2 linked regions of the Homo sapiens genome follow. The protein of the gene in region 1 purifies or fractionates together with the protein of each later gene. This does not show direct contact. Each region holds a gene or a part of one and is shown on either strand. Other genes may lie near its edges.

Evidence for each region.
Region 2: the proteins of ELFN2 (region 1) and KCMF1 purify together in Homo sapiens (affinity purification with mass spectrometry; one large-scale study listed by BioGRID and IntAct). This does not show direct contact.

The regions. Positions count from the first base shown.
Region 1 is NC_000022.11:37,378,899-37,382,714, forward strand, and holds part of ELFN2 (protein phosphatase 1 regulatory subunit 29 precursor), read right to left. Parts: intron 3,462-3,816; exon of another isoform or gene 3,212-3,461; intron 2,067-3,211; exon of another isoform or gene 1,971-2,066; intron 1,413-1,970; exon of another isoform or gene 1,334-1,412; intron 1-1,333. UniProt on the Homo sapiens protein: Inhibits phosphatase activity of protein phosphatase 1 (PP1) complexes.
Region 2 is NC_000002.12:85,047,416-85,051,231, reverse strand, and holds part of KCMF1 (E3 ubiquitin-protein ligase KCMF1), read right to left. Parts: intron 1,867-3,816; coding exon 1,584-1,866; intron 1-1,583. UniProt on the Homo sapiens protein: E3 ubiquitin-protein ligase which accepts ubiquitin from an E2 ubiquitin-conjugating enzyme and then transfers it to targeted substrates, promoting their degradation by the proteasome.

The sequences.
Region 1 (3,816 bases):
GGGCAGCAGCCTGTCCTCTCAGGTCTGAGGCTAAGGGTCCAGCGGTCACATGGCCAAGGTCATGCCCCTCCCCTACTCCCATGAGGGTGGTCCTCCCACACACACAGCAGGGGGGACAGGGCAGCACCCCACATACCCAGGTGGTGAGAGACGGGAAGAAGGGGGTGCTGCAGGGAGGAGGTGAGGACTGAGAATGGTGGAAAAGCAAAAATATCAAGACAGCCGAGCAGACAGACAGAGGAGGAGAGAAAAGGAGAAAGCGCGTCTGAGACAGAGGCACCGACGGCAGTGAGCTATCTAGATGATAGATGGGGGGCGCAGGGGACACGGGCACCTGCTTCCCTCCCGCAGCCCAGAGGCCCGGGAGACAATTGACACCTGGTCTGGCTGAACCACGAGAATGCAGCCTGTGACCAGCCCAGAGGGAGAGGGGAGCAGTGGAAGCAGCTGTGGGGCGCAGAGGCCTCTTCTGCCCAGAGCCCGGTGGCACAGCCCAGGAGGGGTGCAGCCATGCAGGCAAGCAGGCATTGGGGGGTGGCATGTTCCAGCAAAGAGCAGGGCTCCCGTGCCCTGGCCTGACTGGACCCCTCCCCTAGAGCTTTTCTCCCTTCAGGCCCCAAGTGCCCCACCACCAGCTCTCTTTAAGGGGCACTCTCTCCTTCCACCACAGAAGAAACAGCTGCACAGCCAGGGTGCATGCTGTTATCGGGGGCTCCCGGTCTGCAGGCTGCATGCTGTAGGACGTCCCCTCTCATGGGGACATTCATGGGCAGAGAGGAGAGTCAGTGAGACCTCACAGCACTTGCTGCTCTGAGGGCAGAGCTGGTGGTGCAGGGGTCTCAGTTCAGAGCTGGGCAGGACCACAGACCCCAAAGTCACTCTCAGCAAATGCCTCCCCTCTCCGGTTAGTCAGCTGCCCAGTGATCCCGCTGGGTTTGTGCCCTTTCCGCCCGGGTGCTCCTAGGTCCCGGGCCCCTCTCTGGACTCAGAACTGAGAAGACAAGGAGTCCTGGCTCAGTCCCACCCCTGCCCCCCCTCGGAGGGCAAGCCTGGCACAGCGCCTGGCCTCTGTGAATGACAGCCGCTGTTGTTAATGGGGGTTTTATAGTTATTTCTTCACAACCCTCATCACCCAAGATCAGGGTTCCCCTGGACTCAGGCTTGCTGAACCTCCGGGTCACATCCTCTCAGCCCCCCGCTATAGGCTGACTCCCAAGCTTCCCTGTCAGGGGAGCGTCTGGACCCCGGACCCGGGGAGAGCCCCCACTGCACTGCGGCGTGTGGGAGGGGTTGAGGGGGGTTGGGCTAACTCCCCAGGCTGGGTGAGAGGGTGAACAGAGCGAGGCCAGCTGGGGACGCAGGCAGCGGAGGTCAGCAGGGAAGATGCAGGCCCAACCAGCTCTGAGACCCAGGTAAGCTGCAGGCCCTCTCCGAGCCTGTTTCTCCCCGTGTGGCAAGGTGAGTACCACCCAGCTCCAGAGTTCCCCCGAAATCCCAGACATGACAGAGACACACACGCTCAGTCCAGGGCAGGAGGCCCCACAAACACACCACCCCAGGCTCCCGCTTGTGTGGCCACACTCTTGCAGGGACACCCGTCAGCTCCAGGAGCAGGTGGGGGGAAGCGCAGTCTGTGTCCTGGCCTCCCAGGAGCAGGGACGTGAGGCTCGGCCAGGGAAATCTCATTTGCAGCAGCTCATAAGCCCTGGCACAGGCTCTTCCCTGAGCCAGGCTGGCCAAGGCTCCCGGAGGTGTCATTGTCACCATCCGTGTCATTGCCATTACTGAGGATTAGGAGGACCAAGGACTCCTGGGGCCCAGCCAGATCTCTCAGGTAGGCAGCTGCCTCACCCCTTGCTGCTGGAACCCTAGCACCAGGACAGGAACTCTGCCCTCAGGGACAAAGCCTGCCACCCCCCGGGGAAGAGACTCAAGCCGGGGGTCTGAACACCAGTCTTTTCACTGCCTAGAGCTCCTTGGAGCTCCCTTGTCATGGAGCTCCCTGGGCCTCAGTTCCTTGTCTGTAAAATGGGAGGATTATACCTTCACCATGGAACTACCGTTCGGTAAGTTAACTTTTTGGATTTCCAGCACAATGAGCCCTTACTGCAGGGCATAGATGGTGCGGGGAAGGGTCCTGGGATTGAATGCTGAGCTGTGTGACATCAGGCACATTACCTAACTCCTCTGGGCTTCAGTCTCCTGGCCTCTAAGACAGTCATATACCCCTTATCCAATGCTCCTTTGTGTCTGACATTTGATGTTCCTCGAATCTTATATCAACCCCACACAGCTGGTGCTGTCAGCCTCATCTTACAGATGAGAAGACAGAGGCTCTCTCCTCCCCGGCTTCCCTCCAAAGGGCTGGGACCATGGCAGGGGCGGGACATGCACTGAGCCAGTCTACTGGGTTTTCTGCCCCTGTCAGAGGAAAGCGTGCAAGGGGGAGTTGTCCACAAGCCTCGAGAGATTTCGATGTTTCCATCAATCAGGAAGTACTGATTCCAGGCCAGCTGTGCTCCTCAAACCCCTAGGCACACTCCCCACCCCAGGACCTTTGCTCTTCTCTCTGCCTGGAATGTTCTTCCCCCAGAATCCCCATAATCCACCTGAGATCTCTGCTCAACCACTCCCTGCCCCTGACCCCCACCTTCTCTAGCCCCCCAGTCTGAGATAACTCACTCCTCACCCAACCCAGGCTTCGGTCCCCTGACAGCAGCCAGCACTACCTGACGTCACTTAATTCTTCATCATCGCCCTGCCTTGCCCCACCCCCAGCAGAAAAGCAAAGCAGGATTTAACTTTGTTCACTGCTGTAACCCCCATGCCTAGAACAGGGTCAGACGTACAGCGGGTTCTCAGGACATGCTGTGTGGAGTGAGAGCTCCAGGCTAGGGATGGTGGGGAGATCCTGGATCCCCTGACTCGGCTGAGTCAGTCCCAGCTACTCCGGAGGCTGAGGCAGGAAAATGGCATGAACCCGGGAGGCGGAGCGTGCAGTGAGCCGAGATCGCGCCTCTGCACTCCAGCCTGGGCGACAGAGTGAGACTCCGTCTCAAAAAAAAAAAAAAAAAAAAAAAAAAAAAAAAAAAAGAATCTTCAATATCAGAGGGAGAAGCCCCCCCTGTGATGGGGTGCTCATGATGGGGCACAAAATGTGCCGAGCCTTCCTTTTAGTTTCACGGCCGTCCTTATGCCTCCCATTTTACAGGCAAGGAACTGAAACTCAGAGAGGTGCAGTGATGCACCCAAGACCACACAGCCAAGAACCCAGGCCAGCCTGAGCTAGTGGAACCAGCAGACTTTCCAAGGCTCCTCCCTGGAAGACGATGTCCCGTCACCTGCAGACCTCCAGTAACAGGGCTCTCAGCGCCCACCTAAAGCTACTGGTTCTCCTTTTTTTTTTCCTTTTCTTTGCTCACTGCCGCCTCTGCCTCCCAGGTTCAAGTGATTCTCCTGCCTCAGCCTCCTGAGTAGCTGGGACTACAGGTGCATGCCGCCACGCCCAGCTAATTTTTGTATTTTTAGTAGAGACGGGGTTTCACCACGTTGGCCAGGATGGTCTCCATCTCTTGACCTTGTGATCCGCCCGCCTCGGCCTCCCAAAGTACTGGGATTATAGGCGTGAGCCACCACGCTGGCCTTTTTTTTTTTTTTTTTTTTTAAAAACAGACTCTAGCTAGCTCTGTCACCCAGGCTGGAGTGCAGTGGCACGATCTCGGCTCACTGCAACCTCTGCCTCTAGGGCTCAAGCAATTCTCGTGTCTCAGCCTCCCAAGTAGCTGGGACCATAGGCGCATGCCACGACGCCCAGCT
Region 2 (3,816 bases), on another chromosome or scaffold:
TGTGGCTCTGTGGTTTTCTTACATTAAAGCAGCATTATCTGGTAATAACCAGGCACAGTTACTGACCTTGCAGAGATAATTCAAAGGTAAATTACCCATTTAAAATGTTTTTCTTGGTTTCATAACAAATGTTGATAACGAGTACCATTAATTGGACCTTTACTATAGGCCAGATAGTGAGCCAGACCATACACATACCAGTATTCCATTTAATCCTCAAAATAATTATCTCTCTAAAGGCAAAACTTCTGGGATACTGATGATAAAATTGAGGTTTGGAGGAGTGAAATGACTTGCCTGAGGTCCAAAACTTGTAATTGGCAAAGCTGGGGCTCTAGCCCAGGGATTTTCAAGCATTTTTTATTCTGCACCCACAATATGTTATTTATAACTATACACATGCACCACTGTATTAACAGAGTATGAGATAAAAGAAACATAAGTAGAAATTATAATATTTTCCTCTAACATCCCAATGAATTGTCATACACACTGCATTTTGGAAATAATCATGTATTACACAAACTTTATTCTTCATTTTACAGTTCTTCCTTTATGTTCCTCTCTGCTCCCTTAAAAGCCCAATTAGTCCAGGTTCATTATCTGTTGAGGCTAAGTCTCCACTCATCATTGCTCTTTTAAGAATTCTTTATATTCCTAAAAGTCACATAAAATGCCTGTGAAGTTTTGGCAGACAAATACATGCAGTTGCTAACAGTTTCAGAAGCAAACAAGAACTCCATCTAGTAGAGTAGTTTACTGTTTTACTAAATATTATTTATACCATAGGAAGCCATTTTTTTAAGTTACTTTTGTGTGCCAACCATAAAAATTTAAATCTAGCTTTTTTAGAAATTCACAGGAGAAAACTGCCACTGTATTATGAAATCCTTCTTATACTTTTAATATTTCAAAGCAGATTAAAACTGGCAATAACAAGCAACGTTAATTATGATAAATACACCTAATATGAACCATATATATATAATGATATAGTGTTTAAGTTTTATGGGTACTATGGCAAAACAATTCATATTATATGATGATATATACCTTGAGAACAAGACCAGTTATTTTATTTTAGAGACAGGGTCTCACTCTTGTCACCCAGGCTGGAGTGCATGGTGCAATCTTGGCTACTGCAACCTCTGTCTCCAGGGCTCAAGCGATCCTCCCACCTCAGCCTCCTGAGTAGCGGGGACTACAGGTGCGCACCATCACACCTGGCTCATTTTTGTAGAGATAAGATTTCATCATGTTACCCAGGGTGGTTTGGAACTCCTGGGCTCTGGCGATCTGCTTGCCTTGGCCTCCCAAAGTGCTGGGATTACAGGTGTGAGGTGCTGGGATTACAGGTGTGAGCCACTGGGTCTGGCCCAGTATTCTTAATTTATCTAAAATAATTACTATGTTTCACATTCTTGGGGAAATACTGAATATGCGTTTTAATCAGAGATCTGTGAGTTTTAATCAAACACAAAATTTTAAAGAAATATAATGCACAAAAGAGAAAAGATAATTCCAGACTGTAGTGGCAATAAAATATTACTTCCCAAACAAAATTCTATTAACAAATGAGCTACCTTGTTAAAAGAAACTGGGAATTCTGTAGAGTCTGCTGACTGCTTTCTGTATTAGCTATGTTGGTTGTTGCTGTGGATTGTGTGATTGTAGTGGTGACACTGCTTGTGTTAGTACGCCGGGTTGCGTTGCGTGCGGTCTCCAGTTGTTGCCGTGCTGCCTGGGCATGCTGCCGTTCTAGCTGCAGCTGCATCTGCAGTTGTTGTAACTGAGAAGCGGAAGGGCCAGAGGAATTAAGCTGTCCTCCTGCAGAACGTCTCACTCCTGATAACTGAGATAAAAGCTCTGCCAATGGAAATGAAGACAATTAATGTCTGCTTAATACTGAGGAAAACAAAACGCTACAGATCACTCTTTTACTGGAACAACATCAAAAGCATTGTGAACAGGTAGGTAACCACCACAGCACACAGTTTAAGAGCTGAATCCTTCTAGAATGCCTCCTGAAGGCAGGAGTTACTGTGGACAGAGAATGCAAATGCATACGAATATTAACCCAGACTGAATTATGTTTGAAGTAAAACTTAAATTGTCTTTAAAATTATTTGCATAATAGACTAATTTAGTGAAGCTTTCTCTTAGTATTTAATGAAGTGGTTTATCTGTGGGCCCAATTATAATATAAGCTCTCTCAATATGTGTTCCATGGAAGCAGGGATGAGGTCTACTGTTGACTATATTCCCAGCTATCAGAACAGGGCCTGATATAGCAGGAATTCAAACATTTACTGAATGACTGAATGAATTATTAGGATTCAGTCCAAGAGGCCTGGATCATTTCTGATGGTGGCCCTTGCACACTCTCTGCCTCTGCTTTCTCCCTCTAGTACCTTCTGGTACTGCTGTTTCAGAGTACCACTGCAGTAGATACCACTACCAGTGCTCAGCAAGGCTGACTGGCTCCTGAGAACCTGCTGCATCTGACTGTACAGCCTACTTAGTGGCCTGTTATGATCCAGACTGTCTTGTGTCCATAAGGCTGTACTCATTAAGAGAGGTGTAAACTTTTGTCCCCGCATCCTCATCTAAGTAAGGTACAGTGAAATGCCTTCTTCCAAGTGGAGGGTCCACCTCGCTTATAGGGAATCGATGACTGCCTTGCAGACACTTTCAGGCCAGCAAAAACTCTTTATCATTAAAACTCATTAACAGTTTGTTTTCTTGCTCACTGTTGCTTTATCCCAGGCTTTTTATAGCACTCTTATACCACTCTTTCATGGAATATACAGTCTATCACTAAAATAAACTAATTTTCACTGACAGAAAAAAAATCAAATGAAGAAAATTTCTCAATTTTGAATTTTGCTCCCAGAAACTACTTTAATTTTTAGTGCCTGCCACCAAAATAGCAGGTAAATATTCCCTTTGGATGAAGAAATATTTTTTAAATCCCCCAAACTCAGTTTATTAGGCTTGTTTTTGTTGTTGCACACACAAATGTCCAAAGCACATTTGGAATTAAAATTTTATATGGTATATCTAACTTTTAAATAACATGATAGGTATAAAATTGTTCTTAGGTTGTTTTTCTTTTTTAAATTTTTATTTTAGGTTTGGGGGTACATGTGAAGGTCCGTTACACAGTTAAACACCTGCCACGAGGGTTTGTCATACATATTATTACATCACCCAGGACCCAATTAAGCCCAGTACCCAACAGTTATCTTTCTGCTCCTCTCTCTCTTGCTACCCTCCCCCAGTGTCTGCTGTCTCCTCCTTTGTGTTCCTAAGTTGTCATTTAGCTCTGATGTTCTCAGTTTCTATTACAGATTTACACTTATCAATGTTTCAGGTGTTCTGCAGGGTGCTCATGGCTTCCAGGTAGGTGCACACTTCACCACATGGACACATTTCAGAATTGTTGCTTTAAATGTGTGCACACTTCCCACTGTCTTACCACTTGTCTGCTTGGTGTGTCTTGCAGATTATCAGGCTACAGTGATTTCTTGTATTTTATTTTGACCCTGTGTTCTGCTACCAACTTCCTAGGTTTGTCATGTACTAGACTCAGTGACATGGCCAGGTTCAAAAACTGTGTTTTTTTTTTTTTTTTTAAGATTTTTCCCAAGCTATTAAACATGTACCTTTCAGTATGTTCTACAACAATATAGTTCTCAAATCAAGGTCAGGACATTAAGTCCTACTTTCCTTTCTTCCATGAGAAGAGCTTAATTCTTTAGTCTTTTCAATTAGCTATAGATAACAGTTCTGAAATGTGTCCATGTGGTGGAATGT